Linked DNA regions of Homo sapiens. The protein of the gene in region 2 purifies or fractionates together with the protein of the main gene of each other region. This does not show direct contact. Each region holds a gene or a part of one and is shown on either strand. Other genes may lie near its edges.

Evidence for each region.
Region 1: the proteins of CHST9 (region 2) and NADK purify together in Homo sapiens (co-immunoprecipitation; one large-scale study listed by IntAct). This does not show direct contact.

The regions. Positions count from the first base shown.
Region 1 is NC_000001.11:1,771,359-1,776,617, forward strand, and holds part of NADK (NAD kinase), read right to left. Parts: intron 1-5,259.
Region 2 is NC_000018.10:26,915,110-26,920,368, forward strand, and holds part of CHST9 (carbohydrate sulfotransferase 9), read right to left. Parts: intron 2,242-5,259; coding exon 1,150-2,241; 3' UTR 1-1,149. UniProt on the Homo sapiens protein: Catalyzes the transfer of sulfate to position 4 of non-reducing N-acetylgalactosamine (GalNAc) residues in both N-glycans and O-glycans.

The DNA.
Region 1 (5,259 bases), on a different chromosome or scaffold from region 2:
AGCCAAGCAGGCTTCTCTAAAGGAAAGGACAAGCTGATAAAATTCACATGAAAATGTAAAGTATCTAGACCAGCTGAAAAAACTTTGAACAAGAACAAACGCGAAGGGCTAAGTTCATGACTTGTTGAAAAACTACGGGAACCAGACAGCGTGGCAGCATCAAGACGGACATACACATCAAGGAAACAGGACGGCCAGCCCAAAGGTAGACGCCACAGACCCTCACACACATGCAGTCCATGAATTTTTGACAGGTGCTGAGGTGATTCAACATGAGGAGGATCATCTTTTCACCTAATAGTTCTGAACAACTGGACAGCCACGTCTAAAAGAACGAAGCCCAACCACTTCCTCATACTACATACAAATATTAACTCAGAATGGATTATAGACCTAAATGTGAGGACTAAAACTATGAAACTTTTTAGAAGAAAGCACTGGAAATTTTTTTTTTTTTGTCTTTTTGTGAGACAGGATCTCCCACTGTTGCCCAGGCTGGAGTACAGTGGTGTGATCTCAGCTCACTGCAGCCTCAACCTTCCAGGCTCAAGCAATCCTCCCACTTCAGCCTCCCAAGTAGCTGGGATTACAGGCATGCACCACCACACCTGGAAATTTTTTTTTTTTTTTGGTGGAGATGGGGTCTCCCTATGTTGCACAGGCTGGTTTCAAACTCCTGGTCTCAAGTGATCCTCCCACCTTGGCCTTCCAAAGTGTTGGGATTACAGGCGTGAGCCACCTCACCCAGCTGGAAAAAGTCTTAGTGGTGTTTAAAATCTTTTATACTTAATGGAACCCTGAATTTTTTTTTTTTTTCCTGTTTTAGGCAGGGTCTTACTCTGTCCCCAGGCTGGAGTACAGTGATGTAATCATGGTTCACTGTAGCCTCTACCTACTGTGCTCAGACAATCTTCCCACCTCAGCCTCCTGAGTACCAGGGACTACAAGCATGCACCACCATGCCTGACTAATTTTTGTATTTTTTTGTAGAGATGAGGTTTTGCCATGTTGCCCAGGCTGACCTCGAACTCCTGGGCTCAAGCAATCTCTCTGCCTCAGCATCATAATGTGCTTGGATTACAGGCATGAGCCACTGTGCCTAGCCAAAACACTGTTAAGAAAATTAAAATACAGTTGGGTGTGGTGGCTTGTGCCTGTAATCCCAGCACTTTGGGAGGCCGAGGCGGGAGGATCGCTTGAGTCCAGGAGTTCAAGACCAGTTCTGTGTCTTGCTAGTGGTTATATAATTAATTTAAGAGGTAACACTGCATAGAGCCATACACACATGTAAAACTGGTGAAACCTGAATAAGGTCTATAGTTTAGTTAGCAGTATTTCAATTCCCTGGTTTTGATATTGTACTATGGAGGTGTATGGAGGTGTAAGATGTTAACACAAGGGCCGGGCATGGTGGCTCATGCCTGTAATCCCAGCACTTTCGGAGGCCAAGGCGGGCGGATCACCTGAGGTCAGGAGTTTGAGACCAGCCTGACCAACATGCAGAAACCGCGTTTCTACTAAAAATACAAAAAATCAGCCCGGCGTGGTGGCGCATGCCTGTAATCCCAGCCACTCGGGAGGCTGAGGCAGGAGAATCACTTGAACCTGGGAGGGGGAGGTTGCGGTGAGCTGAGATCACGCCATTGCACTCCAGCCTGGGCAACAAGAGCCAAACTCCATCTCAAAAAAAAAAAAAAAAAGATGTTAACACAGAGGGAGCTGGTGAAGGGCACAGGGGTCTCTCTGTACTATTTTTACAACTTCCTATGAATTAGTCTATGATTATTTTTTTTTTCCCCAGACGAAGTCTCGCTCTTGTCCCCCATGTTGGAGTGCAATGGCGCAATCTTGGCTCACTGCAACATCTGCCTCCAGGGTTCAAGCAATTCTCCTGCCTCAGCCTCCTGAGTAGCTGGGATTACAGGTGCCCGCCGCCACACCCGGCTAATTTTTGTATTTTAAGTAGAGATGGGGTTTCACCATGTTGACCAGGTTGGTCCTCAAACTCCTGACCTCAGGTGATCCGCCCGCCTCGGCCTCCCAAAGTGCTGGGATTACAGGTGTGAGCCACCGCACCCAGCCAATTATTTCAAAATAAACAGTTAATAAAGGTCAGACACAGTGGCTCACACTTGTAATCCCAGCACTTTGGGAGGCCGAAGCAGGGGAATCACCTGAAGCCAGGAATTGGAGACCAGCCTGGGCAACACAGCAAGACCCCGTCTCTACAAAAACATTAATAAAAAATAAACAAATCAAAATCACAAAATGTTAAAAAAAATGTATTATTACTGCTACATTACCTAGAAGCTCTATTTTGTGTGTGTGTGTGTGTGTGTGTGTGTGTGTGTGTGTGTGTGTGTGTGTGTGTGAGAGAGAGAGAGAAATAGAGATATTGAGAGACTGAGAGGTAGGGTCTTGCTCTGTCACCTAAGCTGGAGTGCAGTGGTGCAATTACAGCTTACTGCAGCCTCAATCTCCCAGGCTTAAGGGATCCTCCCATGTAGCTGAGACTACAGGCATGAGCCACTATGTCCAGCTAATTTTTAAATTTTTTGTAGAGACAGGGTCTCGCTACCTTGAACGGGCTGACCTTGAACTCCTGGGCTCTGGTGGCCCTCCTGTGTTGACCTCCCAAAGCATTGGGATTACAGGCATGAGCCACTGCACCCAGCCTAGAAGCTCTGTTCATATTTATTTGCGAAGATCAATTTGATGACTAAGCAGTAAACTAATTTATAAAATAATATTAAATATTAAAACCAACTTTAAACAATTATCTTCACCTATGTATGTGTGTGTGTGTATATATATACACACACACACACACATATATATATATTTAACAAGTATCTCCAATACCACAACCAGTGTATTTTTTGTTTTTTTGAGATGGAGCTTCGCTGATGTTGTCCAGGCTGGAGTGCAGTGGCGCGATCTCGGCTCACCGCAAACTCTGCCTCCCAGGTTCAAGCAATTCTCCTGCCTCAGCTTCCCAAGTAGCTGGGACTACAGGTGTGCGCCACCACGCCCAGCTAATTTTGTATTTTTAGTGGAGACCTGCCTCTTAATTCTCCAACATGGAGGGGTTTCTCCATGTTGGTCAGGCTGGTCTCAAACTCTCAACCTCAGATGATCCGCCCGCCTTGGCCTCCCAAAGTGCTGGGATTGCAGGCGTCGCCACCGCGCACGGCCACCATTATGCCTCGGCCTCCCACAGTGCTGGGATTACGGGCGTGGCCACTGCGCGCGGCCACCATTGTGCCTCGGCCTCCCACAGTGCTGGGATTGCAGGCGTGGCCACCGTGCGCGGTCACCACTGTATTTTTTGACAAGGGTGAGTCAGGACTGACACTTAATTCATTTGTTTGATATATTAACTGCTTTAAAAGGACACACAATGCTAGCTGCACCAAAGTGCATTCAAATTCCTCATAGCATGAATCTAATTTTAAAAAACCTTTGTAGGGCGGGCATGGTGGCTCACGACTGTAATCCCAGCATTTTGGGAGGCCGAGGCGGGCAGATCACGACATCAGGAGTTCAACACCAGCCTGGCCAAGATGGTGAAACTCCGTCTCTACTAAAAATACAAAAAAAATTAGCTGGGCGCGGTGGCAGGCGCCTGTCATCCCAGCTACTCAGGAGGCCGAGGCAGGAGAATCGCTTGAACCCAGGCGGCAGAGGTTGCAGTGAGCTGAGATCACGCCACTGCCCTCCAGCCTGGGGGACAGAGTGAGACTCCGCCTCAAAGAAAAAAAAAAAATCCTCTGTATTAGGAAGTTTTATTAGAAAAAAATACTAGAGCACAATAAGAAAATATTCATAACGAACTTATACAAAGTAGCAAGGAAAACATTAAGATGCCAATAAATAAATGTGCAAAGAACATGAACAAAAGTCACACACACACAAATACAAACATAATACACGAGTTCGTTCCCATGTAAGAACTCAATCAATATTTGTTGCAAGACTAAATGAAAAAGGAAAATTTATTTAGTGACAGAAATGGGGAAACATTCAACCTCAACCCTGAGTGGGAAAAAACTTACTGCCCACTAAATTACCCATCTCATCTCACCCCGGTAAATAATGCCCAGTGCTGGCATGCACACTGGCAGTATACAAACTGAGAAAGACTTTCTGGAAAGTGCTACAGCCATGTGACCACAGGGCTTCACCCTGTGACCTCATTAAACCTAAGCAGATTACAGGTCTGAAGGGGGCTTTCTTTAGATGTGGCTCCACCTACTTAGGGGCAGATGAAGAAAACAGGGGTCTGGGCAGTTCTGAATGGGAAGGCCAGGCATCACCTCCCTCTTCAGTTGCACAAAGTGTGCGTGGCATCCTCACATCCCATCTGCCTCAATTTCGCTTTTTCTCTGAACACTTTTCACCATCTGTCTGAAGCACACACACACATTTTATTCACTTCCCCATTCCCATGCATGAATGCTAGGACCTTTGCAATTGTGGGCCAGGAAAGATTGCAAATGATAAGCCACCAGCACAGAGAGTAGAAATGAAATCCTGGGGTTACAAGCTAAAGCATTACTGACACCCACTTGTCCAGAACGGCTGAAGCTGGGCGGTGACTGTCAACAGGTATATACGGACTAGAAAGTGGAGCTGCTGGAGGAGGCCCTGTACCTTCCTGCCATGACACAGCCTCCCCCCAAGTGCTGGGCTTGTGTGCTCAACACTCCCTCTTGCTGTCATCCTACCACACCTGCAGACTGGAGGTAATCCAGATGCAAGGCCGTCGAGTCCCGCAAACACCCACCTGCCTCTTAATTTTCCAAGTGAGACCTACATTTCCTCAAGCGTGAAGCTCAATAAAATCAACTATTGTTTTCCGTTTTCATCACGAGCGCCACTTTCCCCCTATTTGTTCACCGCCTCCACTCCACAAGAACTGCTCTTGACTTGGCCAACTTTCTGGGACACCCTCACTACAAGGATTTATGAGTCAAACAGGTTTTTGTGCTAGCCTGGAAATCTAACTGCTGACAGCAGTTGTTTCAAGAAGAAAATGCTGTTTTGGAACCAAACAGCAGGCTGCCAACTGAAACAACATAAACCCACCTCCAAGTTCAAATGAAACAAACAAACAAAAAGACTGGTCCAAGTGAGGCAAGCTGTGGTGGCTCACACCTGTAATCCCAGCACTTTGGGAGGCCAAGGTGGGCTGATCACGAGGTCAGGAGTTCGAGACAAGCCTGGCCAACACAGTGAAACCCGTCTCTACTAAAAATA
Region 2 (5,259 bases):
TGACTTTGTTAGTATAGAATATTTAAACTTAAAAAGAAAATACCTTAATTTACTTATGCATAAGCCTATTAAACACATTTCTAGGGGCTCTTTTTATGTTTATTCTCTAGAACATAACCTATCTTTGAAGTGGTATATTAGTTTTTAAAAAGTCATTCCTAAGCTGAATAATTAAACTGAAAACAAAAGCTATTCTTAGGGTGTATTCCACATATAAAGCTATGCACATGATGCTTTGATTCAAATAATATACTTATAAAACTTTGTTATTGTTTGAGTTCCATATTCAGAATGGCAACTTTTGTTTTTGATGATTATTCCATCCTGAAACAATTTCCCCCCTGCTCAATTAAACCAGAATTAGGAGCACATTTATATCTGATGAGACTTAAGCTTCTCAACTGCCTGCTTCAGAAATGTAGACCTTTAGTGCTTGTGTTCATTTTGTCTCTTTGTGGAAGGCTCAAAAGAAAACAGAATCAATTCCCTTAAGTTTTTCTGGAAGAAGAAGGTTGGTTTTGTTGCTTTGATCTTAGCATGTTGTGCATTTTTTATTGGCTGTTGAATATAAAAAGCCACAGCCTCATCTGGTTTTTCTGCTATATTCTCATATTGTAAATCACATAATGCCTTCCAATCTAAAGTAAAATGCCTAAGTCCAAAATATCACTTCAAAATGGATTTATCATTATAGTTGATAGAAAGATTTCCAGGGTGTAAGAAAACAATTCAACAGTTTGATTAATATGCCACAGACTGCTAAAAATATATTCATGCATTTTAGACAATAAATTTCAGGATATAGACATACACTCATGCTATTTGAGATCCTTTTTTCCTACCATTGCAAGAGGCTGCTTTAGCTAATGCAACAGCTGGCTAGGTTATTGCTTCAACAATATAATTCATAATGCAAAAGCAGCTCTTTTCCAAACATTTTAGAGCAACTCAAGTTGTTTACATCTCCTGTAGGTGATTTTCCTATAACTTTGTGCCAATTGGTGTCATACTATTTGGTAAAAATCTACATTAAATCAAGACAACTGCACTTGGTTAAATTTCTGTCATACAGAGAATTATAGAAAAATTACAGCTGATTTGAACTTATCATCATTAAGTATATACAGGGTTTTAGAAAATGAATGCAAACTACAAAAATGGAGTTGTATAATTAAACATTAAATAGTCCAAGTAATAAAAGTCATAGATTAATTGTCTCTCAGTTCTAGTCAGATCCTTTAAATACTGTCTCACGACTTGAGCATTGGTTCTTTCATCGGAAGAGTGCCTATCCTTAAAGTTGGGAAATTTCAGCTCCTTTGGAGCACCGATCATCTGTAAAAAGTAATTGGCATCTTCTTCCAAAGTCTCAAATTTCCCTACAAAATCATAGTTGATCAAACACGGATAGCAGAGTTTGCTGACCTTTTCCCAGTGAATGTCCATTCCTACTGGACGGTGGGAATCCAGCAAGTAGTGGATAAACTCTTTGAACTTGACTCCAGATCCATTAATTAATGCTTCTTCACAGGCATTTGGTCGATATTTCTTGATAATTGCCTTTCCGAATACTGGATGGTAATAACTATTGGGGTGTTCAAATTTGTCCCTAAAGGCTGATACTAATCTTTCCATGGGATCACGAACAAACACAGCTTTGGTGTAAGTATTTAAGCGGGTATATATCCCTTTTAGGTCAAAGCTATCTAGCTTCTTCAAATGCTTCCCGTAGTGGACAGCATTGTGGGAGATGTTGTATGCAGAGGAAGCCAATCCATTTAGTACCATCAGAATTCTTTTCCAATTGGAACAGCCAGCCTTAGGTACCTCACAATATAAGATTTTGTGTTTATCTTCTACATAGATTCTGGATACTGTATGAAAAAGATGTGACTGATGATGACTCACCCCACCGTATTTCTTGCAAAACTCCTGAAGGAAAGACCTTCGTTTCTCTTGGGTCTCCTCAGTTTTCTTCCATTTATTATCTTTGACTAAACTTTTGTTTAAAGGGTGAATGTCCACTGGCCAATTCATGTTGCTGAACTTGTTAAAAACAGTCTTAGCTCCTTGACGTTTTTCAATCAACTTCTCTGTTGGTGACCCTGTGGACTTACTTAAAGCTTGATCCCCTCCTTGTGAATGACTGGTCTTTGTTAAGAGCCTAGTAGATCTCTCAGAATTGAGTAGAAGATTTTCCTTTTTTTCTCGTACATCCTCAGGCATGTGAAACTTGGGGTTCTGTTAAAATAAAGAAGGAGAAATGTTGAAAGCACAGTCACGAGTGTGGGTATACTGGATAAGGAACTTCACATATTTGTTTTAAAATAGTATCAAGGAGAGCATATTTCATATAAGCTGCCAGAACAATTTAGCAAGGCATGCTGAACATACATTTTGTAGTGAGCTTCTTCACAGAAAATGTAGCAATGAGAAATGGCATCTACAGGATAGGGAGGAAAGAGCCCTGGATTTTTGTCCTGGCTTTGCCTGTAATGCAATAGGATGTAACTCAACCATTCTGAGCATCTATGACTTTTGGGATATTAATAAGTATGTCATCTTCAAGTACTGTTTTAGTTTGTGCACCTGAATGTAGATACAAAATGGAGATGTTTTGAGATTGAAACTTTTATTGTTTTTAGGGAGCACTCTGTAATGCACAGAATAGTTCAAAATCATAAATTACAACTTAAAATTTTGGCAAGGCTAATTATAAATCTCGATGACCACTTCAGTTTTCTAAGTGCTTGCAAAAATCATGTATTTTTTTTTTCCTGGGAAAATGTTTTATTTTTCTAAAGCATTTATCACAATAATTTAAGAATTTATTATGATCATAGTATACAATCTCATTCACATATGAGACCTTCCCTCTTTCCCAAGTGAAGAATGACTAAGGAATCCAGAAAAGTCTACTTGACGTCCTGCTCTATAAAACTGTATCAAGGTAGAGCAAAAATGTAGTTATCTTTTCAGTAGGATGAATGAGTCCATTTACCACATACTGTTCATCTTGCCACATCCTTCCTACAACTCTCACAGTAAAAGAAGACATGGAAGACGGGATTTACAAGGTGGCATCCTCTGGTAGGGATGAAAATTTTAAGGACCTTGGCTTTTACTCTGGGTAAACTAGGGAACTTTTGTAGGGCTCTGGGTAGAAAAGTAACATGATCTCACTTAGACTTGAAAAGGATGGTGTGGAGAGGAATGGACTGGATATATACATATAGGGTTGTCAGCATGTTATTGGAAAAGTAAATGAATAAATTCTGTGCTGTGGACATAATGCATGGTGTCATCAGCCTAGAGGTGGAGGGAGTGGTGGGGAAAGTTTCCTAGGGAATATAAACATGATTGCAAATATATATATACATGATACACATGATTGCATATATATATATATAGTACATATATATGTGTGTGTGTGTATACACAATTTTTAACCATTGTATCCCCAATAGTGTCTAGAATGGTCTACAGCCTATAATAATTTCTCTCAAATATTTGTGGAATGAACAAGTGAATGAATGAATGGAATTAGGTCTTCAAGGATAATTAGTAATTTTCTAGCAAATTAAGCAATAGAACAGAGGAATGAAGCACCGTTCATGGAGCCACCTCCAGACATCATGGTCATTCCACCAGCTGAGGTTGAAGGGCACTGCTTTTTTTTCTAGTGCAAGAGGACTGTGTGAATAACCCCCTGAATACCATATGCCAACGTGTACAGCCCCGTGTATAGCCCCGTGTATTAGTCTGTTCTCATGCTGCTAATAAAGACACACCCGAGACTGGGTAATTTATAAAGAAAAAGATGTTTAATGAACTCACAGTTCCACATGGCTGGGGAGGCCTCACAATCATGGCAGAAGGTAAAGGAAGAGCAAAGGCCTGTCTTATATGGTGGCAGGCAAGAGGGAGAGTGTGCAGGGGAACTGCCCTTTATAAAACCATCAAATCTTGTGAGACTTATTCACTATCACGAGGACAGCATGGGAAAAACCCACCCCCATGATTCAATTACCTCCCACCTGGTCCCTCCCATGACACGTGGGGATTATAGGAGCTACAATTCAAGATGAGATTTGGGTTGGGACACAGCCAAACCATATCACCCCCTGAAACGGCCACTCCAAATCTTCCATACCATTGGACCGTCTATTTGGAGTTTTAACTCTAAAACCATTTGTCTGCTGTCTTCTCCAGAGACTGCCAGGATTACTTCAAAGCCCTTTGTGCTTCTTTACTCTGATCAGTGATTTGTAGTACATAAAGTTGTCACTGAAAATATAAAATTTGACTGTGGTTTGACAGACCATAGGGTTATGGGTGCACATGCATGGAAAGTACTTAGCACAGGCCAAATATAAAACTGCCATGATATTTATACTATTACACTGCTATAAATAATAACTACTATTATTGTTGTTTTAGCAGCAGCAGCAGTAGTAGTAGTTATAGTACTTTAATCCCAGGGACCTGGTGAATTTAAAGCCTCCCCATTTGTCCATTATTATTCAGACTATAATTTGTGTGTCCCTACATATGCCCTCACCAGGTCTCTTCTCTGCTTGACAATCAGAAATAAAAACAAAATCCACCTTCCCCTGTGGCCTCTGGACTTTCTGCTTTGTGGCCATCAAATTCCCCTTTAATCTCCAGGGGTTTCTGGAATGTTTGTTTCCAAGACTCTCTGTAAATGAAACTTGGCTGACTCCCAACACTCTGTGTCTCTTGCACTTTCTCAAGTAGGTGAAACTTGACTTCCTTGAACTACTTGTCTCTCCAGCCAGAAGATAGGGAGTGATTTCCCTGCAGCCCACGGCTGCTTCCAGGACATCACCCAGCAAAGCCCTCTGCTTCTGTGAAATCAATGTGTTCTCCTTAAGTCTCCCTTTCCCCCTCCTCTTGTTGTCATCTACCTTTATCACTGATCTGTCCACTTTACACACTCCAGCTTCTAACTCAGCTCCTGTCATTACATTTAGTGACTCTGACATCCAATCAACTCTCAGTTCCTTGACCACTTTGTTTTTAACAGAGGAGCTCTCCACTTCACATCAAACTTGGTTATCACCAGAGCCTTTACTATTCCCACCATCTTTCTGACCACTCTTGTCTCACCTTCCAGTTCAGTGTTATTTCCTGGTTTGCAATTCTTTGACCACTTTTCACTGTTACCCAGGTCTTAACAGCCAGCATGACTGGCTCTTCATTCTTCAGCTCTCAGTTGGAAAGTCACCTCTGTAGAAA